Regions from separate parts of the Homo sapiens genome. Here all the other regions are linked to region 3. The links come from fine-mapping of genetic effects on gene expression. A gene starts in region 3. Each other region holds a variant in brackets. All regions are shown on one strand. Distances are between the middles of the regions. Region 1 has its middle 99 kb from the start of MIR5706. Region 2 overlaps DMXL1 (Dmx like 1). Region 3 holds the start of DMXL1 (Dmx like 1).

The links.
Region 1: its variant is fine-mapped to the expression of DMXL1 in whole blood (INTERVAL, PIP above 0.99). The same link has a PIP of 0.9 or more in blood mononuclear cells.
Region 2: its variant is fine-mapped to the expression of DMXL1 in tibial nerve (GTEx, PIP above 0.99). The same link has a PIP of 0.9 or more in aorta.

What each region holds. Positions count from the first base shown.
Region 1 is chr5:119,250,272-119,257,424 of GRCh38, forward strand. No RefSeq gene overlaps it. Among named protein-coding and RNA genes, the nearest start is that of MIR5706, 99 kb to the left of the region's middle. RefSeq lists an enhancer at 5,481-6,037. The variant A/G (reference allele first, on the strand shown) is at 3,519.
Region 2 is chr5:119,095,203-119,102,355 of GRCh38, forward strand. It overlaps DMXL1 (Dmx like 1), which reads left to right. Exons shown (of 44, transcript NM_001290321.3): 2 at 2,777-2,902; 3 at 6,733-6,804. Among named protein-coding and RNA genes, the nearest start is that of DMXL1, 28 kb to the left of the region's middle. The variant G/A (reference allele first, on the strand shown) is at 4,223.
Region 3 is chr5:119,066,735-119,073,887 of GRCh38, forward strand. It overlaps DMXL1 (Dmx like 1), which reads left to right and starts at 4,353. Exons shown (of 44, transcript NM_001290321.3): 1 at 4,353-4,922. The coding sequence starts at 4,836. It overlaps DMXL1-DT (DMXL1 divergent transcript), which reads right to left and starts at 4,156. Exons shown (of 3, transcript NR_134250.1): 1 at 4,072-4,156. It overlaps LOC124901209 (small nucleolar RNA U13), which reads right to left and starts at 2,666; the gene lies at 2,563-2,666. RefSeq lists silencers at 4,120-4,199, 4,510-4,789.

The DNA.
Region 1 (7,153 bases), 180 kb after region 3:
CAGGTCACTTGAGGTCAGGAGTTTGTGGCCAGCCTGGCCAACATGGTGAAACCCATCTCTACTAAAAATACAAAAATTAGTGGAGTATGGGGTTGTGTGCCTGTAGTCCCAGCTACTCAGGAGGCTGAGGCAGGAGAACCACTTGAACCCAGGAGGTGGAGGTTGCAGTGAGCCGAGATCATGCCACTGCACTCCAGCCTGGGTGACAGAGCAAAAGTCTGTCTCAAAAAATAAAAATGAAAAAAAAAAAAAAAAAAAAACTGGAAATCTAAATGTTAATTAGCAAGTAAATGGTTGAATAAATTATGGTACATACATGTAATATTATAGAATATTCTCTCACCACTAAAAAGAATGTTAGATATGTATATGTTGGCCTGAGAAGAGGCTGATGAGGAAAAAAAATTACAGAGCAAAAGATACAATATCCTAATTGTTTAGACTTTTTAAAATATATATGAACAAAGAAATGCATGTGGAAAAAATACACAAAACTTTTAGCATTGGGAAAAGGAAGAAGGCTGTAATATTTTCCCAAACTCCTTTAAACCTCACTCAGTAAAGTAATACCAAAGATAGTTTTGTTGAATGTGTGTACGTGGGAAAAACAGCTTTATTTTTAAACCAAGTAGTACTTCATGACTTTGGGAGCTGCTCTGTTGAATAAAGTGATCTGGTGTCAGGAACACTCCTCTTTGAATTGTTGAGATATTTTTGGTGAAATTTATTTAAGCTGAATGTTAAAATGTTACCCTTTGGAGCAGGAGTCCCCAGCCCATGGGTGACAACTGGTACCGGGTTGCACAGCAGGAGGTGAGTGTTGGGCAAAGCTTCATGTGTATTTATAGCTGCTCCCCATTGCTTGCATTACCACCTGAGCTCCGCCTCCTGTCAGATCAGTGGAGGCATTCGATTCTCATAGGAGCAGGAACCCTACTGTGAACTGCGCATGCAAGGGATCTAGGTTGTGTGCTCATTATGAGAGTGATGCCTGATGATCTGTCACTGTCTCCCATCACCCCCAGATGGGACCATCCAGTTGTAGGAAAACAAGCTCAAGACTCCCACTGATTTTATGTCATGGTGAGTTGTATAATTATTTCATCATATATTACAATGTAATAATAAACTGCACAATACGTGTAATGCGCTTGAATCATCCTGAAACCATCTGGCTCCATGGAATAACTGTCTTCCCACGAAACCAGTCCCTGGTGCCAAAAGGGTTGGGGATTGCTGCATTGGAGTACCTGGAAAAAGTTGATCATAGATTATTTGAATGTGCCTGTTAGTATTCTAGAAATGTGTGTAGATTTCAGTCCAGTTATTTTCAAAGCTGAATCTGTTTTTGAGCTTTTCAAGATGTTTTTTCTTTCTGCTTGGCTGTCATTGCACATATATGGTCCATTACTCAAGGAACTAACACTGAGAGTGTCACATTGTTTCACAGGGGTCCTTGGAACAAAAACACTTTTAAGTTCTTCCACTGCAAATACAGATGACTAATAGAAACAATTGGTGTGACAACACATTTCACTCCACAGTGGAAAAAATGCTTTATTCATGGACAATCAATTTTCTATGCAATGTACAGGTATGACCTGTGTAACAGAACTCAGCCAGTATGGTGTATCCCTGGACATACGTTAAATAAGTTTTAAAAATCCTTTGGAATCTACTCTTAGCATCATTTCTGAAATTGCAGCATATTTGTTTTCTGAAGCCATACCTTTTTTTTTTTTTTTTCAGTTTATTCTGAACACAAGCAAAGATAATTCCTTAAAATAGGATCTGGTTGTCTGTATTTGGGTTGTTTCATTCTGTGTTTTGCAGAAAATGCATCAGATTACTATGGCCATTCAGACATGAAGATAACTAAGCAAGCTACAATACTTGCAGTGTATGTTAAGATCTCATAGGGCTTTTTCCTAATGAGAAGTTTTATGACGGGGGGGAATGCCCCATCTGGAGTTTACATTAAAGAAAACTTCATGTGTAGATGAAGTTACATGGATGTAGCCCTACAAATGAGGCATATCTTCTGATAATGCAGTTCCACAAGAAACAGCAAATGAAGCGAGGGCTAGACTTCACCCCAACACATCCCCCTAATAAGTTATATAAGCATTCACCATGGCCCTGTACCTCATAGTCAGAAGCCCAAGATTCTTATACAGTAATGACAGTCATCTAAATTTCAACTGTTTCACAAATCCCTTTAAAGAACAAAAAGAACAAATCACTCAGATACCATACCTAAGCATATTAGATGGCAGAGAAGACAGCAACCTTTAAATTACATATAATTTAGGAAATAAATATCTGAGTCTCCCAGACCCCACACTGTAGCAGAAAATGATTGGAAAAGGGGTACATAGAAGAGTGCAGGATTCTACTGGTACTGACACAATATGAACTGGAGTTTAGAAGGAGAGGGTCTCATTCTGAATGGTGAAATAGAACAAATAACTGGCTACTGAAAAATAGAGTTGGAAATTGTATGTGATTAGGTGTGAATATTTTGGGAAATTAGTTCTGAAATAGGCCATCTTCAGAGGAACTGATGTCCTTTGGAGGCTTATTGGTGAAGGGAGAGAAGGAAGTAAATGAAGGTAAGTGTCGTTTAACAAGATATCAAAGAATCCAAAAATATCCTCCATAAAGGTGTGTGATTTTTTTAAAGGAAATCGTGATTTATTTTACAAATAAAGCACTGTGCTCCTGAATGAAAAAAACAGCCCCCCTACACTTGTCCATAAGATTGTTTACTATTGTAACGTGAATAGTTTATACCACATGTGAAAAAAAAATCCACACAAATTTACTCTCAAAACGTTTCTTTGAACATACAAAAACACGCTAGGCCAGGTGCAGTGGCCAGTTCCTGTAATCCCAGCACTGGAAGGCCCAGGCAAGAGGATTGCTTGAGCCTAAGAGTTCAAGACCAGCCTGGGCAACATAGGAAGACCCCCATCTCTACAAATAATTTAAAAATTAGCCGGGCATGGTAGCACATTCTTGTGGTCCCAGCTACTTGAGGCAGGAGGATTGTCTGAGCTGGGGAGGTTGAGGCTGCAGTGAGTAGTGATCATACCACTACTTCAGTCTGGGTCCAAAGTGAGACCATGTCTCAAAAAAAGCAGGGGAGGAGGGGTGGCTCATGTCTGTAATCCCAGCACTTTGAGAGGTCAAAGTGGGAGGATTGCTTGAGTCCAGGAGTTCAAGACCAGTCTGGGAAACATGGTGAAACCCCTTCTACAAAAGAAAAAAAAAATAGAAAAATTAGTCATGCATGGTGTCACGTTCCTGTAGTCCCAGCTACTCAGGAGGCTGAGATGAAAGGATTACCTGAGCCTGAGGAGACCAAGGCTGCAGTGAGCCATGATTGTGCCACTGCACTCCAGCCTGGGTGATAGAGTGAGACAGTCTCAAACATAAAAATATAAACCACCCTCAATAATTTCATGAAACAGAGGAAAGCAGTAATTCAAAATAGTCTAACTTACTAATTGATCGAC[A/G]GGGTCTCACTCTTGCCCAGGCTGCATTTACAGGACCTGCATTTACTCAGGAATGAAAACAGCAAAATTATCTCATAAATCAAGGCTAAATTAGAGATGGCCCAAGGGAGAAGAGATATGACTGAAAGCACACATGTAACAGAGAGAATAGAAATTAAATGAGCCAAAAAATGAAGTAAAAAATTGTTGTAGAGAAAATAATAGATATAGAACACAGAAAAATATGCAATGTTTATGGGAAGGCAGAACTCTGGGTGCAGAGCCAGGAGTTGCAAGCCCAGAGAGCAGAGCTTTGAATCACAGGGTTATTCTCAGGCCTTGAAGCTGAATGGAATTTTCCCTGCTGTTCTTTGAAATTGCTTGGGACAATGTCAGCACCCCATCAAAAATTACCAGACAGGAACAGAAGCTGAAAAATGTGACTCATACGAGAGAAATATCAGTCAATAGAAACAGAAAACATGGGCCGGGTGCAGTGGCTCACGCCTGTAATCCCAGCACTTTGGGAGGCCAAGGCGGGTGGATCACAAGGTCAGGAGATCGAGACCATCCTGGCTAACACGGTGAAACCCCGTCTCTACTAAAAAATACAAAAAAATTAGCTGGGCACAGTGGCAGGCGCCTGTAGTCCCAGCTACTCGGGAGGCTGAGGCAGGAGAATGGCAGGAACCTGGGAGGCAGAGTTTGCAGTGAGCAGAGATCACGCCACTGCACTCCAGCCTGGGAGACAGAGCAAGACTCCGTCTCAAAAAAAAAAAAAAAAAAAAGCAGAAAACATGGCAGACTAGAAGTTCTGGCACTTGTCTCTCTCACAATGACAACCAAAACGATGAAAACTACAATTTAATCTGGGCATGGTGGCTCATGTCTGTAATCCCACTACTTTGGGAAGATGAAGTGAAAGGATCCCTTGAAGCCAGGAGTTTGAGACCAGCCTAGGCAACATAGCAAGACTCCATCTCTACAAAAAATTACTTAAAAATTAGCTGGATGTGGGTGGTGCATTCCTGTAGTCCTAGCTACTAGGGAGGCTGAGATAGGAGTATTGCCCAGGAGTTTGAGGTGTATCACAGTGAGCTATGATTGCACCACTGTACTCCAGCCTGGACAACAGTGAGATCCTGTCTCAAAAGAAAACACAACATTTTAAAAACAACAAACAAAAATAAAACGGAGAGTTCCAAAGTGTCTCAGAGGAGTAACATAAATCTGGATGGGAACAGAAACAGATGGCCACCTAGAAAACAGAAGAAAACATTGGGCCTCTACCACCCCATTCCCCAACTAGGATTAGCTGAAAACCAGGAGGAACTTCTCCTTTCAATAAGGAGGTAGGAATGAGGATGGTAGCAACTCCCATCAATACTTTGGACACCAAAAAACAAAACAAAACAAAACAAAAACGGATAGGAGGCAGGACTAAATCACAGCTCCCACTCATACAGAGCATTGGGTGGAGACACATTGTGAACTCTTGCTCCAAGAACTACTGCAGGAATATACCAGGAAAGATGAGCGAATCCACAGACCCTTTGAAGGAAGTGGATTGCTCCTGCAGGACCCAGGAGATAGCCCAAATACTGTGAGTGCCCAAACTGTGAAAGTGGGAAAGAGGGATCATCTGCCCCTGAACACATACCCTCACTGGGGAACCTGAAGGTTCAGGTCATAGGAGAAGGATTTGACTTACCAGGAGCTGAGACAATTTAGAAAGCCAAGCAAATTACATGGGTAGAGGAAGCAGTGGGAAAAGCCCTGTGGGCTCTCTGGGTCCCCACGAAAGCCATTTCTGACTTTTCTCTCAGGGATCCTTGGGGAGGTACGCCAGAGGAACAGGGAAAAGACCACAGGGAGAAAGAAACCTCCAGCTGAACTTTGTAACAATTCCAACTAAACACAAAGTCTCCTGGCCAGAACTCTGGGGATGGTGTGAATCCAGTGTGCAGACCGATAGGCGGGGAGGAGTGAAAGCCCTGCTTGCTTCCTCAGCCAGGAGGCTGGTAGCCTGGGGCAAGTTCTCAGCCCTGCTTGCCCACTGCCTGGAAACCAACTAGGTGCTGTTGGTTGGGGGGCATGGTGAGAGTGAGATCAGCCTTTTCAATTACATGGGAGCTGGGTGAGGCCTGTAACTGCCAGCTTTCCCACACTTCCCTGACAACCTGCATGACACAGCAGAGACAGCCATAATCCTCCTGGGAACATAACTCCATTGACCTGGGAGCCACACCCCCATCCCCAACAGCCACCACAGCAAGCCCCGCCCAAGGAGAGTCTGAACTCAGACACGCCTAACCCTGCCCTTACCTGATGGTCCTTCCCTACCCAACCTGGTAGCTAAAGACAAAGGTCATATTCTCTTGGGAGTTCCAGGGCCCTGCCCACTGGCTGATCCTCCTCCATACTACCACAGCTGATGCTCTTTTGATAGATAGCACCACCTCCTGGTAAGAGGTCAACCAGCAGAAAACTAGTGCATTAAACAACTACAACTAAAGACACTCAGAGTCCATTTCACTCATCTGCCACCTCTACAAAAGCAGGTACTGGTATCCATGGCTGACAGACCTGAAGATGATTCACATCACAGGACTCTGTGCAGACACCCCCCAGTAGCAGCCCAGAGCCTGGCAGCCCTGCTGAGTGGCTAGATCCAGAAGAGAAATAACAATTACTACAATTTGGCTCTCAGGAAGCCACATCCCTAGGAAAAGGGGGAGAGTACTACATCAAGGGAGCACCTCATGGGACAAAAGAACCTGAATGGCAGCCTTGAGCCCCAGATTTTCCCTCTGACATAGCCTACCCAAATGAGAAGGAAACAGAAAAACAATTGTAATGTGACAAATTAAGTTTCGTCAACACCCCCCAAAAATCACACTAGCTCACCAGCAATGGATCCAAACCAAGACGAAATCCCTGAATTGCCAGAAAAAGAATTCAGAAGGTCAATTATTAAGCTAATCAAGGAGTCACCAGAGAAATGTGAAGTCCAACTTAAGGAAATAAAAAAAATGACACAAGATATGAGGGGAAAAATCAGTATGTATAATTGTGTCAATTAAAAACAATAAAAGCATAAAAGAAAAAAGACTCAGAAATGACACATAATGGAATTAATAGAAAAGGGCTGTAAAACAGCTATTGTAAGTATGCACAAGATCTGAGGAAAAACATTAATGTAATGAAAGCAGATGGTAGAACTATGTTGAACTTTTAGAGATGAAAAATACAATATCTGAAGTAATTCACTGGATGGGCTTAATTCTAAAACACTTTTGAAGAGAAGATCAGAGAATTTAAAGACATGGCAAGTGAAGCTATTCAAGAGAAAGCAAACATAATAAAAAAAAATTAGAAAAAATACAAGAGAGCAAGGAACACTGATTAATTAATGATGCTATAATACCAAGTGGTATGATACATCTACTTAGAGTCCCAGGAGAATGAAAATAAGAGGAAGAAAAAATACTTTAAAAAATAGCTTTAAAATTTTCCAAACTTGATGAAAACTATAAACCTGAAGATACAGGAAACTCAAAAACCCATAGTTGAGACAAGGTCTGGCTCTATTGCCCAGGCTGGAGTGCAGTGGCATGATCTCAGCTCACTGCAGCCTCCATCTCCCAGGCTCAAGT
Region 2 (7,153 bases), 28 kb after region 3:
AGCTTTGTTAACTTCTAGTACCATCGCTGAGAAAAAGTCAAATAGTAGTAGTATGATGCAGCAGCAGCAAAAGAACAAGGGTAATTCAGAACTAGATAAGTCATTGAATGATGAAGTGGTAATTGTTATTAGTTGGTATTTTCCTCTGTATAGTACTAAGTGTTTATTTCTGGGATTACTTTACATTTCTCAACTCTGCAAGTGTAATATTTGTATTAAGTAGTAATTTGTGTGGGCTTCAAAATTAGTATAGACTTGATGTGGGAAAATTTTGGGTCATGTTTGACAAAATACTTGCAACGTAATATCTGAAATTAGGTAGATAATTTCAGGTACAACAAAGGTGAAGTTGTGAAGACATGAGTTTTTTTATTCCACTGAAAGGAAACTGAAAATGTTGTTTAGAAGGGAGCAAATCTAAATTGTAAACATGTAAAATTCAACACAATATTTTGAGAAACAGTGACAATCAGTATTCTCAAAATTTAATATCAAGGAGAAAAATTAGTTTCTAAATTATTTGAAAGACAACTTCTCTTAAAATTAGCCTTTGGAATTTATTCTTGCTAATGGTCTTATGACAAGCCTTATGATCCCATCATGGATATTTATATAGGAGAGGAGATCATCATGTGATTTTTTTGTTTGTTTGAGCCAGTTCTTTTCACTTTGTGAAACTAGTGGAATCATAATTGATTATTCTTTCTAATTTTTAGGTAAAATTCCAGGCAAGCATGTTAACTAGGGAAGCCCCTGTTGGTACCATGGAAATAGCAGGAGACCAAAAATCAAGAGATCAGGTTCTGAAGCCCCACTCTGCCACTAAGATGTTATCAACTTATTTGGGCCTTGATTTTCTTTTCCATATAGCACATTCATTTGTATGTTCTCTCAAGTCCCATTTTTAATATTTTTTGATAGAGTATACAGAATAATTTTGGTTTTGGTAGGAATTAAGGTGTATATGAAGTATAATTTTTTTTTTTTTTTTGAGATGGAGTTTTGCTCTTGTTGCCTAGGCTGGAGTGCAGTGGCGCGATCTCAGCTTGCTGCAATCTCCACCTCCCGGGTTCAAGCGATTCTCCTGCCTCAGCCTCCCAAGTAGCTGAGATTACAGGCATGCACGACCATGCCCGGCTAATTTTGTATTTTTAGTAGAGACGGGGTTTCTGCATGTAGGTCAGGCTGGTCTTGAACTCCAGACCTCAGGTGATCCGCCTGCCTCAGCCTGCCAAAGTGCTGGGATTACAGGCATGAGCCACCATGCCCAGCCTGAAGTATAATTTTTAAATATATGTGCGTGTGCAAAAATGAGGAGCAAGTAGAGAGTTGATAAAAACTTTATGAACTCAGGTTGGAAAACAGTTTGTGTTAGATGTCTTATTGTTGTAACGTGTGCCAGTCTATAATATGAATCCTAGGAGAACAACCATGTACCCTGTAATGGAAAAAACTCCCGTGATCAAAGAAGGTGGTAGGGAAAAGGACACACAAAAGAAGAGTTCTAGTTGGGAGAGTTATGCTAACTGTTGTAAAATTGAAAAAGAGCTATGAAATGCTTGGCAACAAGTCTTGAGCTATGTATACTTTCTTTTGTTGTGATGACTGTTTTTGTGAAATTAAATGCTTCATTTATTCCACTTATAAATTATTAGCTGCATTCTAGGCCCTTGTGTTAGAATTGAGGACTAGAGTAGAGAACAAGATAAACTTGAATCCTTCCTTTTTGGAATTTAACTTTTAATAATAGATAGGGACAAAAGACATTTAAAAATTGTGATATATGCCGTGAAGAAAATAAACAGTAATGTGATAGAAAGTAATGGGAGAGATAGTGGTTGGGAATTGTAGCCTGAATGCTGGAAAGCAGCTAACTAGAAAAGACCAGGCAGATAAAAGGCAGATAAACACCTTGAGATGTAAAAAGGAACAGAAACAAGAGCCAGCTGAGAGAAGGAAAGAATAGCCTGAGATGGGTTTATAGAAGGACCACCATTTAGGATATTGACCATGGTAAGGTGTTGAGATTTTATTCCAAGTGCAGTGGAAAACTGTTGAGGGGTTTAAGCAGGGAAAATAACTTGGTGCAGTAAACATTCTTCAAATATCACTCTTTGTGGAAATGCATTAGAGGGAGGCAAGAATGGAAGTTTGCTATTAGTAGAATAGGAGAGAGATGATCATGGTTCAGTTTAGACAAGGGTGGTAGCATTCACTGGAGATGAAAAAAGTGAGCCGGGCGCAGTGGCTCACGCCTGTAATCCCAGCACTTTGGGAGGCCGAGACGGGTGGATCACGAGGTCAGGAGATCAAGACCATCCTGGCTAACACGGTGAAACCCCATCTCTACTAAAAATACAAAAAACTAGCCGGGCGTGGTGGTGGGCACCTGTAGTCTCAGCTACTCAGGAAATTGAGGCAGGAGAATGGCGTGAACCTGGGAGGCGGAACTTGGAGTGAGCCGAGATTGCGCCACTGCACTCCAGCCTGGGCGACAGAGTGAGACTCCATCTCAAAAGAAAAAATAAAAAAGTGGACAGAGTTCAGAGTTGATGCATATTTTGCAGAAAGGACTGACAGAATTTGCTAATAGGCTGTATATGGGGAGGTAAGGGAAATAGTGCCAAATGTAGATTTTTTTTTTAAGAAAACACCTAAAATTGGTCTTTTAAAACATTTATTCTCCCTGCCTTAAAACATGATAGTTAATACTAGTATTCTACATGGTAAATGTTTCCTTGACACTTTTATCATTTTTATTTATTTATTTTTTTAGGCTTATGCATCTGGATGTGACATTGTAATACTGGGAAGCGATTTTGAAAGATTACAGATAATCCCAGGAGCTAAACATGGAAATATTCAAGTGGGATGTGTAGACTGTTCAATGCAACAAGGCAAGGTTTGTAATCTTCTTCTAATATACAAATTTGTTTGGAATATGGTTTTTGTCAGGATAATCTCTGAAGTGTGTATTTCCTATTGAATTAGAGACTTGGCTTTGTTTCAAAGATAGTGTAGCTAGAAGAATTTTTGGCTGTCTAAGATGCATTCTATAGAGTGCCAGAAATTCTCTTCTTATATAATTTTAAATTATAGCATCATCTTCTCTGAGAAAGAAATACAATACTTACTGATATAGAATGAGTCTAAAGCTTACGTATTTAAAAGGTGATTGGACTGGGGGAAAGGAGTAACAATGAATCTTCAATATTTACAAATAAACTAAAGGAAATGATTTAGAATATTTTTTTTTTTTTGTCTGTGAACAGGTAGTTATCTCCTTGTAACTTCTATGTAACAAGGGCTGTGTAACTTTTTGTGGAAATGAAAAACTCTTTGAGAGTTTATAATATTCTAAGCCCATAAGAAAAGTGAAAAACTTTATCTGGACTTCTATTTGCATATGAAAAGTAGAAAGGTAACCTTGAAAGTAAAATAGCAACAACATAAACAAAAGTAACAAAGTATAAAATTCTTCTAGATCAGGTTAAATACAGTTCCTGTAGTACCAGAATGAGAAAGTCATACTACTAGGCAAGGCAGCATAATATATAGCTTAAAATAACTCCATATAGGCATAGGTGGTAAGGCCTATATATAGTTGTAGCTAGACTGGACTGAACTTCGCAAATACACTCATATGATTCCACTAGAACATTTTGTGTAAGGAATCAAAATGGTCATATTAAGAGTCCATGGACCCAATCATTTGTTTTTAAATCTAATCTTCATTTGAGGTAAACTTTCTAGGATTAAAAGTTGCCATCTGGGACTTAAAGATATTAATTATAAAACGAGTTTCTGTTTTCTGAATCTTTACATATTTGTTGGACTACTGTTCTTTTTGTTACATGGTATTCCTTCCCTTTAATATAGTTACAGGTGTCCTCTATCTTTTGTTGAGGCCTCTTATGACTTCTCGCTGTACAACAAAAATGATCTTTATTATGGAATGCTGGAAATCTTTGGGTTTTTTTTTTGTTTTTTGTTTGTTTTTGTTTGTTTGTTTTGTTTTTTGTTTTTCAGATGGAGTCTCGCTTTGTTGCCCAGGCTGGAGTGCAGTGGTGCAATCTCAGCTCACTGCAGCCTCTGGCTTCCGGGTTCAAGCAATTCTCCTGCCTCAGCCTCCCAAATAGCTGGAATTACAGGTGCTCGCCATCATACCCGGCTAATTTTTGTATTTTTAGTAGAAACGGGGTTTCATCATGTTGGTAAGTCT[G/A]GTTTCAATCTCCTGACCTAGCGATTTGCCCTCCTTGGCCTCCCAAAGTGCTGGGATTACGTGAGCCACTGCGCCCAGCCTATCCTTGAGATTTTTATTTTCATTCTCTTCATGTTTGTTTGATCTTCTAGCTCTTTTGTTCTGTAATCTTTCTTAACTGTATAAAAACTTGCTTAATACCATCTGGACTCACATGGAGCTGGTTAATGTTAAAAATATAATTTAATACTTTCCAATATGAGCTATCTTTTTGTGATAGACTATATGACAGTCCAGGTTAGAATGAAGAAATCATGGCCATGTGTGGTGGCTCATGCCTGTAATCCCAGAGCTTTAGGAGGGTCAAGGTGGGCAAATCGCTTGAGACCAGAAGTTTGAGACCAGCTTGGGGCAACCCTGTCTCTACAAAAATAAAAATAATAAGTAAATAGCCGGACATGGTAGTATGCTCCTGTAGTCCTAGCTACCCGGGAAGCTGAGGCGGGAGAATCACTTGAGCCCAGGAGTTCCAGGCTGCAGTCAGCTCTGGTGGCACCACTGCACTGCAGCCTGGGTGACAAAGCAAGACCCCATCTCTACAAAGAAAAACAAAAAGAGGAATTAAGAAGTCATTTGGTTTTATAATCATTTAATGAAGAAATATTTTCTTCATTTACAGATATCAGTATTATCATAGTGGTTCCTTAAAGTATCAGGAAGAAAATTGGCAGGTTCTGGTACCTGGGGACTTCTGACTGTTTACATTTAAGAAGGAAATGTTCTTTGGGAAGCCGAGGCAGGTGGATCATGAGGTCAGGAGTTCAAGACCATTCTGGCCAAAATAGAGAAACCCCGTCTCTACTACAAAATAAAAAAAAAAACATTAGCTGGGCGTGGTGGCGGGCGTCTGTAATCCCAGCTACTCAGGAGGCTGAGGCAGGAGAATCGCTTGAACCCGGGAGGCAGAGGTTGCAGTGAGCTGAGATCGTGCCACTGCATTTCAACCTGGGTAACAGTGTGAGACTCCGTCTCATAAAAAAAAAAAAAAAGAAGGAAATGTCATAGGCACCTGTATTTTTATTATTACTGTTTTTTTCTTTGTACTGTACTACCACCTAATTCATTTTTCTGAGAAAATTAATCCTCATTTATCCTTTTATTCATCAGCTTCAAAGTATTCTTAGCCCATTACCTTGGAAAAGTTCAAATTGTTCACCTTGGTGTGAGGCCTTTTACAACCTGGCTCAGATCTGCCTTTTTAGTCTCAGGTACACTATTGTGTTATAAGGAGCACTCTCTTCTTGGTGGGATGGTGGTCATTCACCTCTAAACATACATTGCCTCTTTTAATCTTTACATCTGTTTTCTTTTTTTTTTTTTTTTTTTTTTTTTTTGAGACGGAGTCTCACTTTGTCGCCCAGGCTGGAGTGCAGTGGCGTGAACTCGGCTCACTGCAAGCTCCGCCTCCCGGGTTCACGCCATTCTCCTGCCTCAGCCTCCCGAGTAGCTGGGACTACAGGCGCCTGCCATCGCCCGGCTAATTTTTTTTTGTATTTTTTAGTAAAGACGGGGTTTCACCGTGTTAGCCAGGATGGACTCGATCTCCTGACCTCATGATCCTCCCGCCTCGGCCTCCCAAAGTGCTGGGATTACAGGCGTGAGCCACCGCGGCCGGCCTTACACCTGTTTTCATACTATGCCCTATTTATAAAGTTGAATACTCACTGCTTTTTGAAATCCCACCCATAATTAAAGGCCCAAACTAAACACTTCCTCCAGATCAATGCAGCACAAGTGATATCTATATCCTAAGAATTCAGAAGCCTTAAAATATCCATTCACAGTTTTTTCTCCATGTTTGTTGTGTCCTCATTTCTTACCTTCTCTTTACTACATCATATGTTTTTTTTTCTATCCCTGATTCATTCATTTAATCTCTCTCTCTGTTTGATTTCCAATATTTTGATGTTCTTTATATGAGACTCACTCAAGTTATAGTAGTAGTTACCTTATAAAACAGAGCCAGGAAAGGTTATGATCCATCAATTTAAAGAGTAAATTCAAAGGATAAAATAGAATATGTTTTAAAATGTACTCAGGGAGTTTCCAGAGGAATAGACCTAAGTTATATTTTTGAAAAGTTAATGTACACTGACAGAATTGTCAATTTAGAGGATGGATGACGACAATTAACATTTACTGTGCATATTGTATGTCACTTATTATATGTTAGGTGTTTTACAAATGTTATTTCAACCCTCAATGCTGTTAGGAAGGTAGTGTTGTACATATTATGAACACTGTAATGGAAACTAACGTTTGGAGAGATTAAGTTGCTAGTTAACGTAGTAAGTTGCAGTTCTAGGATTCTAATGCAGATGTGATAGTCTTCAAAACTGACATTCTTAAGCATCAGTGAATGAAATTGTGTGTATTGGCATATTTAAAGTTATAGTATTCATTTCTTTGCTTTTTTTGATTCATAAGTAAGTTAACATATCCCTAATAAATTCTTTTTTTCTTTTTAAAAGATTGCAGCGTCTTATGGAAATGTTATCTCCATTTTTGAACCAGTTAACCTACCAAAACAAAAGAAAAATTTGGTCAGTAATTTATGATTTCTTCTTTTAGGAATTGAAATGTTTTAAGTATTGAAAGAGTGTAAAATCAGAGTGATCATTGAGTAAATCGGTATTACTTATATACTGTAATTGAACCTACATGTTAAATTCCATTTTGATGTTAAAAATATATTTAAATTTTTCATTGGAATAGAACTAAAATAAATTGTGCCAATGAATTGTTGAAATGCTTTATTATTTTATTTCTGACATTTTTAATTTTATAATATTTCAAGAGTCAGTAACCTAAAGTTTGGCACTACTTTATTGCTAGTATCAAATACCGTTGTCCAGCCATATGTGGTACTCTTTCCTTTGTTTTATAATCTAC
Region 3 (7,153 bases):
TCCCTCATCTATCGGTGTTGGCAGTGGGGACTGAAGCCCCTATAGGTGGATCTAGTGACAGAGGCCCTGGGAGAATAGGGATTTTTTTTTTTTTTTTTTTTTGAAAGGAAGTCTCGCTCTGTTGCCCAAGCTGTAGTGCAGTGGAGTGATCTCGGCTCACTGCAACCTCCGCCTCCCAGGTTCAAGCGATTCTCCTGACTTAGCCTCCCAAGTAGCTGGGACTACAGGCACGTGCCACCACACCCTGATAATTTTTTGTTTGTTTGTTTGTTCATGAGACGGAGTTTCACTCTTGTTACCCAGGCTGGAGTGCAATGGCATGATCTTGGCTCACTGTAACCTCCACCTCACAGCTTCAAGCGATTCTCCTGCCTCAGCCTCCAGAGTAGCTGGAATTACAGGCACCTGCCAGCACTCCTGTCTAATTTGTTGTATTTTTAGTAGAGACAGGGTTTTACTGCGTTGGCCGGGCTGGTCTCAAACTCCTGACCTCATGATCCATCTGCCTCGGCCTCCCAAAGTGCTGGGATTACAGGCATGAGCCACCGCCCCCAGCCCTAATTTTTGTATTTTTTAGTAAGACAGGGTTTTGCCATGTTGGTCGCTGGACCTCAGGTGATCCGCCCGCCTGGGCCTCCCAAAGTGCTGGGATTACAGATGTGAGCCACTGCCCCCGGCCAAGAATAGGGATTTAGATTGGTCTATTTGGGGTGGGGGAGGAGGGTAATGACAAGGATTTCAAGAAATCAAGAGTGGGCAAGAGGCATGATTATTTCCCAATCTGAGCTAGCTTCCTATATGCTCCTTTTCTTTCCAAGAATCTCAGAATTTGGCCTGCTTGGGTTTCTTTAAACTATCACCACCCACTGACTCTTATAAAATTCCCCCTCTTCTTGAGATCGCGCCACTGCTCTCCAGCCTGGGTGACAGAGCAAGACTCTGTCCCAAAAAAAAAAAAAAAAATTCCCCCTCCTCTTGAAGACTAGCATTGAAAACCAAAACTTATCTTTGGCCTGCCAATCTCAGAAACCACATGGCACGTCGGTTATGTAAGACATCTTGCTGCTAGTAATAATGCAAACTATACAATAAAAGACTTCCTTTATTTTATTTTTAATTTTTTATTTGGTTTTTAAGAGACGTGATCTATTTTACCTAGACTGGACTTGAACTCCTGGACTCTCAACGATTCTCCTGCCTTAGCCTCTTGGGTAACTGGGACTACTGGCGCTGCATACAGCAAGACTTTTTTTTTTTTTTTTTTGTAGAGCCATCCTTTCTCTCTTATTTTTTTTTAGAAACTAAAAAAGAAAACCACCAAAGCACACAGTCAGTGAGCATTCAAAGGATGGAAGGATATAATTCAATTATAGTTGAGGGGATAATTAGACTCAATAATTCTCCGGGATTTTTTTTTTTTTTTTAAGACAAGGTCTATCGCCCAGGTTAGAGTACAGTGGCGTGATCATAGTTCACTGCAACCTGGAACTCCTGAGTTCAGGGATCTTCCTGCCTCAGCCTCCCAAAGCGCTGGGATTGCAGGTGTTAACCACTGCACCAGGCCCTTCTCCTGGATTTCTTGGATTAGCAGGTTGATTTGTGAGCCTTTGGTAGAAGGAATGTGGAGACTTTGAGCAAGTGGAATGGAGGCATGCAGTGCTGCCTTCTAGACCCGCAGTAAGGAAACAGGAACAGGAGGATGAGGGGCAAACAACCTAAAATTTACTTTCACCTCCTCCACCTTCTTATTAATCTTCCCATAAGGTCAGAGTCATGTCAAAGTTGCACAATAAATCAGGAATAGATTTAGGATTCGACAGAACCTTAGTAGGGGAATTTTATGACATTAGGAGATGATCTGTGAGGGGCAGCATCTTGGAGGCAAAGGGAATTTTGTTTGTTTGTTGTTTTTTGTTTTGTTTTGTTTTGTTTTTGGGATGGAGTCTTGCTCTGTCGCCCAGGCTGGAGTGCAGTGGCGCAAGCTCTGCTCACTGCAAGCTCCGCCTCCCGGGTTCACGCCATTCTCCTGCCTCAGCCTCCTAAATAGCTGGGACTATAGGTGCCCGCCACCACGCCTGGCTAATTTTTTTTTCTGTATTTTCTGTAGAGACGGGGTTTCACTGTGTTAGCCAGGACGGTCTTGATCTCCTGACCTCATGATCTGCCCGCCTTGGCCTCCCAAAGTGCTGGGATTACAGGCGTGAGCCACCGCGCCCCGCATCTTGTTGCTCAGTTTTATTCTAATACGTGGAATGCTCTTCAAAACTAACAAATGGGCAAAATAGAATGAGTAAACATGTTAAATTATGAACCAGCCACAGAATTTATGTGGGAGCCACACAAGTACAACAATCCTGGTTCTGGGTCTAAAATATAAAATTAAAAAGCACTTGAAGTATAATTTGAAATAATAAAAGACAAACTGTAGGTATGTTAGACCTCAAAAAATAAGTATATTTTAAAAAAAGACAAATTAAGTTTTGTCCCTTATCTTATGAAAAGCCTGGAATACATAATGAAATTCATTTTTTAAATAAGTTTCGGGTTTTTTTTTTTTCCCCACATCAGATGGGTAATGTGCAGATGATGGCGCAACAAGGTTTGAGGGAGGGACGTCTCACACAAGTGTGAACACACAATCATCCCACTTATGAACTAAAAAGTATCTCGTAAGTAGCTTTTTATTGTCAGACAAAGTAAATGTACATTGCAAAAAATGTAGTAAAAATAAAAGGAAATAAATTTACTAGTACTCGTCCCACCCTAGTATTATTATAGTTTGAAGTCTTCATACTACAACAAAAGGGGGAGTTTCTTTATTTTCTTTTCTCTCTTTTTTTTTTTTTTTTTTGACTTTCTCTCTTGTTGCCCAAGCTGGAGTGCAATGACACGATCTTGGCTCACTGCAACCTCCGTCTCCCAGGTTCAAGCGATTCTCTCGCCTCAGCTTCCCAGTAGCTGGGATTACAGGCGCGTGCCACCATGCCAGGCTAATTTTTTAATTTTTAGTAGAAACTGGGTTTCACAATGTTAGCCAGGCTGGTCTCGAACTCCCAACCTCAGGTGATCCCCCCGCCCCCACCTCGACTTACCAAAGTGCTGGGATTACAGGCGTGAGCCATCGTGCCTGGCCTATTGGAGAGTTTTGAGGGTTGTTTGTTTTGAGACGGGATCTCACTCTGTCACCCAGGCTGGAGTGCAACGGGGGTCTTGGCTCACTACAACCTCTGCCTCCCGGGTTCAAGTGATTCTCCTGCCTCAACCTCCCGAGTAGCTGGGATTACAGGTGGGAGCCACCACGCCCGGCTAATTTTTGTATTTTTAGTAGAGAAGGGGGTTTCACTATGTTGGCCAGGCTGGTCTCGAACTCCTGACCTCGTGATTCACCCTCCTCGGCCTCCCAAAGTTCTGGAATAATAGGCGTGAGTCACCGTGCCTGGCCTATTTGGAGAGTTTCTATACACATTCATGCAACATTTACAGAACACCCTGAATGGGTGGGACTGGTGCGGTGCTAGACATTAAGGACAGACTTGTGTCCTGTTCCTCTGTATTCCAAAGAGGCTTACGGTATACAGGGGGAGACATATAAACAGATGTTTGTCAATTATAATACAAAACTTGTGTCAAAATACAATGAGAGTTGAATCTCAGTTTGTAGCTGTGACTCTGATCATTCTGGAATTCCTAGGTTCTTTTCCAAAACAAACGCTCAATGCAGGGCTGGTGTGTTGTTATTACCAGCACTATTTCAAATCACGTGTTAAGATAACTTAGGCTAAGAAAATACCACTTTCCTACTTGTCAAGTGTTCGAGCCTTTCAAAAACCATCCCGTTTAGGGACTTGGAAACACGCGCAAGGCTGGAGAAACCATTAAGCTGCTAACGTAGACGTTTCAAGGGTCACATTTACTCAAGAGACACTCAGGTCGCCCGGGGGAGCGGTGCATATTGGGACTTGTAGTCCTACCAGAACCGAGGAAACTGCAACTCCCTTTAGGATGCACTTCTCCCCTTTAAATTTTCTGGCCCAACAGTTAGATGACGCCCTAACCTAAAGCACAACTTACCACATCTCACTCATTCTGGGTTCATCAGGCTTCTGCCAGGCTTATCAGGTTCAAGCTCAAACGCACGGCGTTCTCCTGTAGAAGCCTCAAAGAGATTGGCTTATTCTCGGTGGTGGGCGGAGCCCTAGGTGGACCGGGGGTCGGGATTGGCCAGTTTCTGACTAGAAGAGGCGTTTTTATGTTCACTTGCTGATACGCACGCTGTGGTAAAAAAGTGAATTCTTTACCACAGTAGCAGCTGCCCCGAGCGAAGTCTCGCGATATTTCGGCCGCAGGGATCCAGAGGCGCGTAGTGAGTGGCGGAGGACTGTGGGGGTGGCGGGCACCGGAGCCGGGAAGGGACAGGTCAGGCGGGGAGTGCGAGCGCGTACTGCTTGCGCCACTCGGGCTGGGTCAGGAGCGGCTGCCCGAGGTCCAGAGGAAGTGTGTGGACAGCGCGGCCTTCCTGGCCGGTGAGTCGGCCCCGGGTCGTGGCCGGTGAGGGGACCCTGAGCTTCACCTGGGCTAGCGCGGGGAGTGACAGGTGCGCGAAGGAGCGCGGCGCTCCGCCCTCTCGCCGACCCGCCCCCTCCGGGCCTCGCCCTCCGGGGCTCGGGATGAGTCGCGGGCCCCAGCTGAGCGGCTCCGGCTCCAGGCGCCTGTCGCTGCTTCTGCCGTCGCCACCGAAGAGCGGCCGCCGCCCCTGAGGGAAGGAGGGAGGGAAGCAGCCGCTGACCCGTGGCATGAGCTGGATGCGGTGTCCGTTGCAGGACTAGGGCGCCGACATGAACCTGCACCAGGTGCTGACCGGGGCTGTGAACCCTGGCGACCACTGCTTCTCCGTGGGCAGCATTGGCGACCAGCGCTTCACGGTGAGTGAGGGAGGCCCTCGCGTCGCCCGTGGCCCGGCCTTTGCCCGTCATTCTGGGCCGAGCTTGGCCCAGAACGACGGGCAGAGGCGCGAGGTCTTGTCTCCCCAGGGGGGTCCTTACCACCCAGAACCCAGCAGACCTGGCCCTTGAGAACTAAGGAAGCAAAACCATGTCGGTCAGTGAGGTACTGTATGGAGCCTGAACTCAAGTTAGAATATTTTGTAGGATTTTTAAAGTTTTTGGTCTGTCTGCCTTGGGCCAGGGTGCTTTGCCAAAGTCGTTTGTTCAAAAATCTTTGTTGAGTAACGAGTTGGGGGCTTTTTTATACCATTCTATAGGTTCAAATTGTCAAATTTAGGAATAGTGGAGATTGGTTTCATTTTGTATTCTAAGTTAAGGTCAAGTATCTTTGTAGTTAAAAAGTGGGTGTCTCAAAACAATTACCAATTGTTTGCCATCAACAACTAGCCTTGAGAACAGTGTTTTTCATTTATTTTCTTTTCTAATTCCCTGAGAAATAACTTCGGAAAGAAAAAAAAGCCTTTTCATTTTTAAAAATATTTCTTGGATATTTTACAATAACCTGGTAATCCCAGGTTAAGGTTGCTTAACTTGCTTTTCATTGGTCACATATTGACAAGAAGAGGGCACCAAATTTCGGGCTACTTGTCAGTATAGTGGCATTTTTCTACCTTAACTATAGGTTTTTTTTTAATAACAATTTCAAAATATAAGTCAGTAATTGCACATGATACTTTTATCTACATAAATTTATAATGCTAATGATTTTTGCTACAATTTGTGTAGATACCTCTTTAGTTGTGATTAAAAGTAAAACTTGTCACTGCCTGGGAATACTAAGTGCTGTAGGCTTTTTTCTTTAAAAAAAATAAAAGTAAAACTTAATTTTGTATAAGTGACACAAAGTAAACAACGTAACCAATGCCCCAGGTTTAGGAGTGTTAAATTTCTAATCTTTTTCTCTGCTTTTAATTTTTCTGTGGTCTTTGTTGGTCAGAATAAATAATACTCAGCATTTAAAATGGTGGAGGCATTTAATGCCTGAATTGTACTTTTAGAATTGTGCCAAGAAGCATTTTGTTTTCAAATAGAGACTGTACCTCCCCTTTAGATTGACTCATACACATCTTAATTATCGGGATTCCAATTCTAAATGTTTGCCCAGCCTGAATACTTGGGAAAAGAGTGAGCTCTGAGGGTCCCAGTGAGCAACTATAGTTTCCTTACACCTGGGCATTGCTCTCTGCTCTTGCTGCTTGAGAGGAAAGTAAACATCATCCTTAGAAGGTTTTCCTAGTGGGAAATTATAGGATAATATTGTTGCATTCTCTGTCATTTCCTAAATTTATATGAGTGCTTTCTCCAGTGTAAATTCTAAGAACTTTTGCTTTTTAAAAACTTTTGAAATGAGGTCTCCCTCTGTCACCTAGGCTGGAGTGCAGTGGCGGGATCACAGCTCACTGCAGCCTCGACCTCCCCGGCACAAGCCGTCCTTCCACCTTAGGCTCCTGAGGAGCTAGGACTACAGATTCTAATCACCACGGCTGGCTAAGTTTTCTATTTTTTGTAGAGAGGGGTCTCCTTATGTTGCCCAGGCTGGTCTTGACTTCCTGGGCTCAAGTGATCCTCCCACTTCAGCCTCCCAAAATGCTAGGATTAGAGGCGTGAGCCACCATGCCCAGCCCTAAGAATTTTTTCTAAGAAGGCATTCACAATCTATGTAAGCAGTGGTGTGAACTTCAAAGCATATGCAGTATGATGGCCTATTTATATACCTGGATGCATTCCTCTATAAAACCTTGGTGAATGTCTGTGTATTGTTTTTAAGGAGAGATCAGTTAATGTGCCGAGGAGGATTAGATAGATGGTCATCCTGTACCATCATGTAGCTTGTTGCTCAGTTCTGCTGAATTTTAAAGTTCATTTCCATTGAGTAGGATTTAATCTCCCACCAAGCCTACTGCAGATTTCTTCCAGGTCTCTGGAAGCATTCAGTAAATAAACTAAAAATAAATTTTTAAGTATAAAGAGAGTTCAGCTCTCTTTAGTTTTGATGGAATTTTAAGGATTTAACAGTCATGGTTTTCCTTTGCAGCCTGTTCATCCTTGACTCTTTAAGTTGCTTACGCTCATTATCCTGGACACTTATATACACCTTAAATTTTTCTCTCTTGAAATCGCCCTTTTTTCTTCTCTCATGTTAAAAGGCA